Homo sapiens: one gene and its partner. The protein of the gene in region 2 interacts with the protein of the main gene of each other region in a biochemical or structural test. Each region holds a gene or a part of one and is shown on either strand. Other genes may lie near its edges.

Region 1 (3,679 bases), on a different chromosome or scaffold from region 2:
CAAGGGAGAGTGAGAAAAATGTGCTTTTGGGGATGCTGAGCCCCGAAGCTTCAGGTGCCTCCAGGACTGCCCGGCTAGCCTGAGGGCTGGGCTCCTACACTGTGGGGCTGGGCCAGGGGATCCAGGCACGTACCTTCTCATCATATACAATGCGAGGCCTGATCTCTGGGGCCTGGTAGCCAGGAGTGCCCTCCACGCCTAGGGCGCCCTCATGGAATGACTGCCTCGAAATCCCGTAGTCAGATAGCTTGATGTTGATGTGCTCCTTGACGTCAAGGGACCACACCAGAATGTTGTCCGACTTCAGGTCACAGAAGATGATGTTTTTCTTGTGCAGGTAGGCCAGGCCCGAGGCGATCTGGTAGGCTATTTTTTGGGTGAGCATGTGTCCCAGGGGTATAAAGGAAGAATCTTGCAAAGAAAAACAATTTTCAAATGTATCAAAATTTCAGTTTTGATAGAATCAAATTATCATGATAACAACTGTCTTTTTGTCTTCCGATCTCCCTAGATACTTTATGATTTTTTTTCTTTTTTCTTTTATTGAGACAGAGTCTCCCTCTATCACCCAGGCTGGAGTGCAGTGGCATGGTCTTGGCTCACTGCAACCTCTGCCTCCAGGGTTCAAGCAGTTCTCCTGCCTCAGCCTCCCAAGTTGAGTAGCTAGGACTATAGGCGCGTGCCACCATGCCTGGCTAATTTTCGTATTTTTAGTAGACATGGGGTTTCACCATGTTGGCCAGGCTGGTCTTGAATTCCTGGCTTTAAGCGACCTGCCCGCCTGGGCCTCCCAAAGTGTTGGGATTACACATGTGAGCCACTGCGCCTGGCCCTTAGATACTTTATATTCCATTGACACATTCTCACTATTCACCAGACTGCCATAAAGGACAGAGAATGGCCTGGTTAAGTGAAACAGTATTTAGGATAGAAATGCTCATCGCTGTAGCTTCATTCCTGATATCTTATTCCTGGAATTGCTGGCATTTTGCTGAATGAGCAAGGGTTCGAAATCTCTAGAGTTCACCTCAGGTCAAGGCTGTCCTACGTAAAGGGGTGAGAGGCAAGTAGAAGCATTTTGTTTGGCTGGGCGTGTGGCTCATGCCGGTGATTCCAGCACTTTGGGAGGCTAAAGTGGGGGGATCGACTGAGCTCACAGTTCGAGAACGACCTGGGCAACAGGGTGAAAGGCCATCTCTACAAACAACAACAACAAATTAGCTGGGTGTGGTGGCGTGTGCTTGTAGCTACTCGGGAAGTTGCGGTGGGAGGATGGCTTGAGTTCAGGAGGTCAAAGCTGCAGTGAGCTGAGATTGCACCACTGTCCTCCAGCCTGGCCAACAAAGTGAGATCCTGTATTAAAAAAAAGTAAAGAATTCTGTTTAAAAAATTATCTTCCATTGAGGCAGAAGTGATTGATTTTCATAGCATTTCTTCTTCCTTAGTCAAAAGACAGCTACCTTTCACCCTCTGGCCACTCTGGAGTTTAGCTGCTCTTTTCTCAAGGTAAATTACTTCGACATTTTATGTTAAAATATGGTCCCACTGACCCTGCGGTCTCAGAGTCTCAGCAGCCGTGTACGTGTGCAGTTGGGAAAGTGATTCAATGCAGCTCCCGTGCTCGGTGCCCTCCCAGCGAGGCCTGTTACCATCCTCCTTTTACAGGCAAATAAACTCAGCGGCTTTCCGGACCGCGGCAGAGCCTGGTCTTAGCCGACTCCAGAGTGTGCGCTCCCCCGTCCTCGCCAAGGCTCTGCCTAGTGACTGGACCTGGCGGGGAGCCTGGCCTCGCAGCCAGGGGATGGTCACACGAGCCATGGGTTGGGCGTGCCCTGGGCTTGCCAAGGCCACCTGAGGCTCTACCCCCCGTGCCAGGCAGGAGGCGCCCGGGGCTCTGTCGGTCTCCGGGGCCGGGTGGGGCGGCGCGCCGCGGTACCTCTGGCGTTCTCGGACAGCACGGTGTTGAGGCTGCTGAGCGGCGCGAGCTCCAGGGCGAAGCAGAGCGGGTGGATGCTGATGCCGATGAGCGCCACGATGCAGGGGTGCTGCAGCGCGTGCAGCATGCTGGCCTCCTGCCGGAACTCGGAGAAGTTCTTCATGGCATCGGTGGCCCGCAGGTGCCTCAGCATGGTGTCTGCCAGGGACAGCGCAGTGTCAGCCAGTAGGACATGGGGTGCCTGCAGCCTCAGGCCTCTCTAAGGCCGCACAGAGCTTAGACCCGGGCAGCATATGTCTGAGAAAAACAGCACCAACCTGGGACCCGCTTACCTGCCGGTACGTTAGCAAAGTTCTTGAATTTTTTGATGTGGAAGCGCTTGACGGCCACAGGCTGGCCCTGGTACCGGGCCCGGTAGATGACGGTGCCACTGCCGCCCTGGCCCAGGACGCTGCCCTCGTCCTCGCTGTGCTCCAGCTTGCTGTTCTCCAGGAAGAGCCTGCCACACACGCCCGGCATCAGCCACATCCCCCCCGCCCTGATGCGGGTGGGTCCTGGGCTGGGTCATTTGCCCCAACGGCCGAGAGTCATGGTTCAAAGCCATCTGTGAGGCTGGACAGATCTGGGCCACCCCGGCCCTGCCACTTGTGGGTGAGCACACCTGGGTAGGTTATGCAGGCTTGCTAAGCCTCAGTCTCCTCTGTACAGAGGGCTCTCAGGACAGGAACGGCCTCAGAGGTGGTGATGGCTGGCACAGGGTGAACCCCACAGAAGTGGTGGCCGTAGAGAAAGGACCCCTTTGGAAGTTTTCTTCTGAAAGGTGACGTTTCCTATTTCCTCCCCGATTCTCTCTCTAGTTATGATCTTGGGTTAGCATAGGTACAATAAACTCTAAGAACAGATTTGAGGGGTCCAAGGCTCAGCGCTAGGGCTACAGACAGGAGTCAGCGTTTGACAAAGAAGGTAAACGAGGCTCTGGGTGGGAGCTCAGCGCTAGGGCTACAGACAGGAGTCAGCGTTTGACAAAGAAGGTAAACAAGGCTCTGGGTGGGAGCTCTCCCTTCTCTCCCCTTCCTGAATGCTTGAGGAGCACTGGCTGCACTTATCTGCTGGCCCTAGAGCTGGTGGGGAGGTAGGAGTGGAAAGGAGAGGCAGCTCAGGAGAGAGCAGCTCTGGCTACGAGGGGAAGGGGGAGCCGTATGGGGAGGCAGGATGGCTGCACTTGCAAAGCACTCTTCCCAGTTGGGCCTATCAAGGCCTCCAAAATGGAAAGCCGGCAGCCTGGTTCCTTTCAGGCAGCCGAGGATGGGAACCTAAAAGGTACTGAGATTGGTGGGAAGCCATGGCCGGGGCACCTGCCCGCCCCAGAGGGGTCTTCCTGGAGATCACTCGGCAACTGCACAGCGAGGAACGCCCCCTGTGACCTGCACTGTGTTCTGGGAGGGGCCTTCGGGGCATACCTGGCCGGGAAGTCGGTCATGAACAGTTCAGGGACCAGCTCCTGCAGCGGCACGGGGAGGTCCGGGTGTCTGGGGCAGGAGATGAAGTCCCGCTCGATGGCCGTCAGGACACAGTCTTCCATGTCGAAGTACTGCACATCCTCTGATTTCTCACTGGGGTCCGTGTGCTGGGCCCAGGCTGTCTCGCAGACCGGGCAGGGCACGTACTGCTCCATGAGTGGCGTCCCGTCGCTCTCTGTGGCTGTCAGGGCTAAATAAGGACAGAGCAGGAGACAGCTTCACA
Region 2 (3,500 bases):
TAAGGACAAATGTAATGCTGCTCATCCTCCCGCTCTTACCCGTGGCAGACATCACTAATCAATCATGTGCTTTTTTTCTGCTGAGTTCAGATATGACCTTAACATCCTTTCCAATGCAGCACTCTAGGCAGCCACGACCAATGGATTGGAGTTGGCATGCAAGATGACACCTCTTTGCCATCCTTGCAATAGATGATGGCTGAGCTCCTTTCCAGCTTTGAACACCTATGGTTTATTCCATCCACATTTCTTGAGAAGTGTGCCAGGTGTGTGTGAAGGTCTCTGGACCTGATGCTCCAAGTTATCCTCACCAAGCTCAGACTTACCGCCTACTGAGGAGGCCCAAGGGGAAGCCATGCCTGTCCTCTGTCCTGAAGCACCTGTCTAGAAAGATTGTGGGGGAGGGTGTGTCTCCAGGCGGGTGGGGGCTGGTGGGGCAGGGGAGGGCCTTGCCCAATCACAGAGTTCTCAGAATGCAGCTGGGAGCCACCTGTATTCTGCAGAGAGAAGGACAGTTCTAGGTCACACCCTCTACCCTCTGCCTCCTAGGTGTACTTGCAGTCTCAAGACATCTGATCTGAACAGACTTTGGCTTCCAGAGAGGGTATCTAAACTCCTCTCATTCATTAATTCAACAAACATCTCCTGAGCACCTGCTCTGTGCCAGGCACTGGGCTGGGTGCTTTGGAAACAGATGGGTAAGTCCCAGCCCCTCCCTTCAGGGAACTCACACTCTAAACTAGGGAAGGGACAGAGAGAAGGAGATGGGAGGAGATGGATGTCTCAGGTGATCAGTGGCATGGCAGGTGTGTGTAAGGCACAGGGGGTGGCCTCTGAGAAGGGAAAGCTGGTCTTGAAGGATGATTAGAAAGTTGCCAGGCAGCGGGAGGATGAGGTTGCAGGAAGTTGCTATAGGCAGAGATACTGGCGGGTGCAAACCCCAGGAGGCTTGAAACCACTTGGTGAGTTTAGAGAAATGTGAATCATTCTAGGAGAATGGGAGTGGCTGGTGGTAAGGCTAAGGAGGTGAGACCCCCCACCCAACCCAAGTCTAGAGTGCTTCATGGGCCAGGCAGCTGCTTCAGCAAGACCATTCTGGCTCTTTGGTGCAGAGTGGATCAGAAGTGGCAAGAATGGTGGTTAGGAAACCAGTTAAGAAGCTCTTGGGAGCCAGGTGAGGTGGCTCGAGCCTGTAATCTCAGCTGAGGTGGGAGGATCACTTGCACCCAGGAGTTCAAGTTTGCAGTGAGCTATGATTGTGCCACTGCACTCCAGCCTGGGTGACAAAGCCAGACCCCAATGATGGGGGCTGGAGCTGGGGGAAGGAAAAATATACTTAGGAAGAGATCCAGCAGGAATGAGTGGCTTACTGGGGGAGTAAAGAGGGAGCTGTGCTGAGGGAGCCCTGGGATTCTGGCTTGGCTAGCTGGGTAGCTGGAGAGTTAGCAATCAGGACAGTGAACATGGGACCGAGCTGTTTGGAGGGCAAGGGTGAGAGCGCTGTTGGCCGTGTTGAGTTTGAGGGGCTCAGGGATGCTGGGGGGAACTGACCAGAAGCTTGGAAAAAAGTTTGGACGGAGATATGGACAGGTGACGTTAGCTCTAGGACAGCAGACGTTGGCAGGGGTGTGGGTGAGCGCGAGCAGGCTCAGGCTGAGCAGGGAGCCTGGGGCACCAGCAAGGAGGGAGGATGGGGAAGGGTCTGAGGAGGGAGGCTGGGGAAGGGCTTTGGGAGGGCCGCAGAGGCCGAGGGAGAGGGTGGGATGGCTGCTGGGGCTAACCCATGGCATGAGGTACTGACTTGAAGGGTAGGCAAGAAGACTTAGGGCTGGGGAGAAGGAAGAGGGAGACAGGGAGTACACAGAAGCAGGCTGGGAGAGCAGGGTCCCCCTCCCCTGAGCTCACTGAGATGACATAAGGGAACCCAAGTGCTCTTTTTCTCCAGGACAGCAGGGCCGTGAAGGCCAAGGGAGAGAGCCAGAGAGGCACGGGGTGGGGTCAGCCCCAGGTGCGTCTGAAGAGGGCCTGCAGGACAAGATGGACGCAGATCAAAAAAGCCTCGATGTGGGAGGTGGAGGGGCACCCTGCCTGGGGGCCTCTGTTTTCTGTGTGAGATAGGAGGGCATGGGGGCTTGACAAAGATGAGGTCTGAGCGACTCTGGGGAGAAGAGGGGGCAGCCTCTGGGCCTGGAGAAGGGAGGCTGGTGCCTGGATCATTCTGTTCTTCCCACATCACCTCACACCTCTGCCCCTTACCCTGCCCCAGGCATCCACTCTGAACACCTTCTTCACCTTCCCCCATCTACCTGCAGGGAGACCTTCTTGCACCTACCTTTCCCTGCATACCCATTTACCTGGCCTCCTGGGACAGGCCTGGACCAGCTCTTCCGTAGGACAGGGTGCCCAAGGGTGGCGGGTAGGCCCTCATCTTCCACTTCCACATAGATGTTGCTGGGGGCTTCCCCAGGGCTGCCCCGGCCCATGGCATAGAAAGCTATGGGTTCATCAGGCTCATTGTAGATAGGATTGGAGGGCTTGGGGCGTGGGGCCGGGCGGTGTCGTGGAACAGGGATTGTGTAGACTTCTGGGGGCAGCTGAGGTTTGGCGGGGATGGGAGGCTTGGGCCTGAGCAGCTGGGAGGGCTGGGAGAGAAGGTGAGGCCAGGGAGGAGTGGGGTGAGGGAGGCAGGGTTAAAGCCCCAGCCTAACTCCCAGCCTGAGCCTCTGCCCCCGCTAGGCCCCTCCTCCTCCCCGCTGCCTGCACCCCCTCGCAGGCCTGTCCTCCCACTCCCTCAGCCCCTGCAGCCCAATACCTCCTTCTCCCCGGCCCCCTCTTTCTGCATCGGGACTGGGGCTTGCCCCTGTTTGATGATTGGGCTGTACTGGGGGTTTGGGTCCTGGCTTTTGCTTCCAAAGTTTGATTCTTCGGTCCTCAGGGAAAGTCCTGCAGGCTCAGGAGTCTGCTGGGAAAGAAGGAGGTCTGAGGCACTCGGTGGAGCGTTGGGGTGGGGGAGGTGATCAGGAGGACAAAATAATCCAGTCTAAGTGGAGGATGGGGGAAGGGGGAGGAGCACAGAAATTTGGCCTGGGCTGGGTTCCCTGGATGAGGAAGAGGGGGTGGTGACGGCAGGGAGACCCAGGGTTGGATGGAGGCAGTGGTAAGCTCTGGTCACAGGCCATATCTAGCATTAAAGTTTTTCTTTTTTAAGATAGAGTCTCACTCTGTTGCCCAGGCTGAAGTGTGGTGGTGCAGTCTCAGCTCACTGCAGCCTTGACCTCCTGGGCTCAAGCTATCCTCTTGCCTCAGCCTCCCAAGTAGCTGGGACTACAGGCATGTGCCACCACACCGGCTAATTGTGTTTTCATTTCTTGTAGAGATGAGGTCTCACTATGTTGCCCAGGCTTGGTCTTGAACTCTTGGGTTCAAGTGATCCTCCCACCTCAGCCTTCTTGCGTCTTAGGATTACAGGCGTAAGCCACCACACTTGGCTGCATTAAACT

What was found. Proteins that work in one complex are often made in the same cells at the same time.
Region 1: the proteins of SH2D2A (region 2) and LRRK1 form a complex in vitro, tested with the Homo sapiens proteins (one large-scale study listed by BioGRID).

Annotation. Positions count from the first base shown.
Region 1 is NC_000015.10:101,051,678-101,055,356, reverse strand, and holds part of LRRK1 (leucine-rich repeat serine/threonine-protein kinase 1), read right to left. Parts: exon of another isoform or gene 3,647-3,679; coding exon 3,397-3,646; exon of another isoform or gene 2,968-3,396; intron 2,900-2,967; exon of another isoform or gene 2,436-2,899; coding exon 2,269-2,435; intron 2,135-2,268; coding exon 1,937-2,134; intron 412-1,936; coding exon 134-411; intron 1-133.
Region 2 is NC_000001.11:156,806,849-156,810,348, forward strand, and holds part of SH2D2A (SH2 domain-containing protein 2A), read right to left. Parts: intron 2,960-3,500; coding exon 2,813-2,959; intron 2,643-2,812; coding exon 2,355-2,642; coding exon of another isoform or gene 2,289-2,354; exon of another isoform or gene 498-2,288; coding exon 330-497; 3' UTR 327-329; exon of another isoform or gene 1-326. UniProt on the Homo sapiens protein: Could be a T-cell-specific adapter protein involved in the control of T-cell activation. May play a role in the CD4-p56-LCK-dependent signal transduction pathway. Could also play an important role in normal and pathological angiogenesis.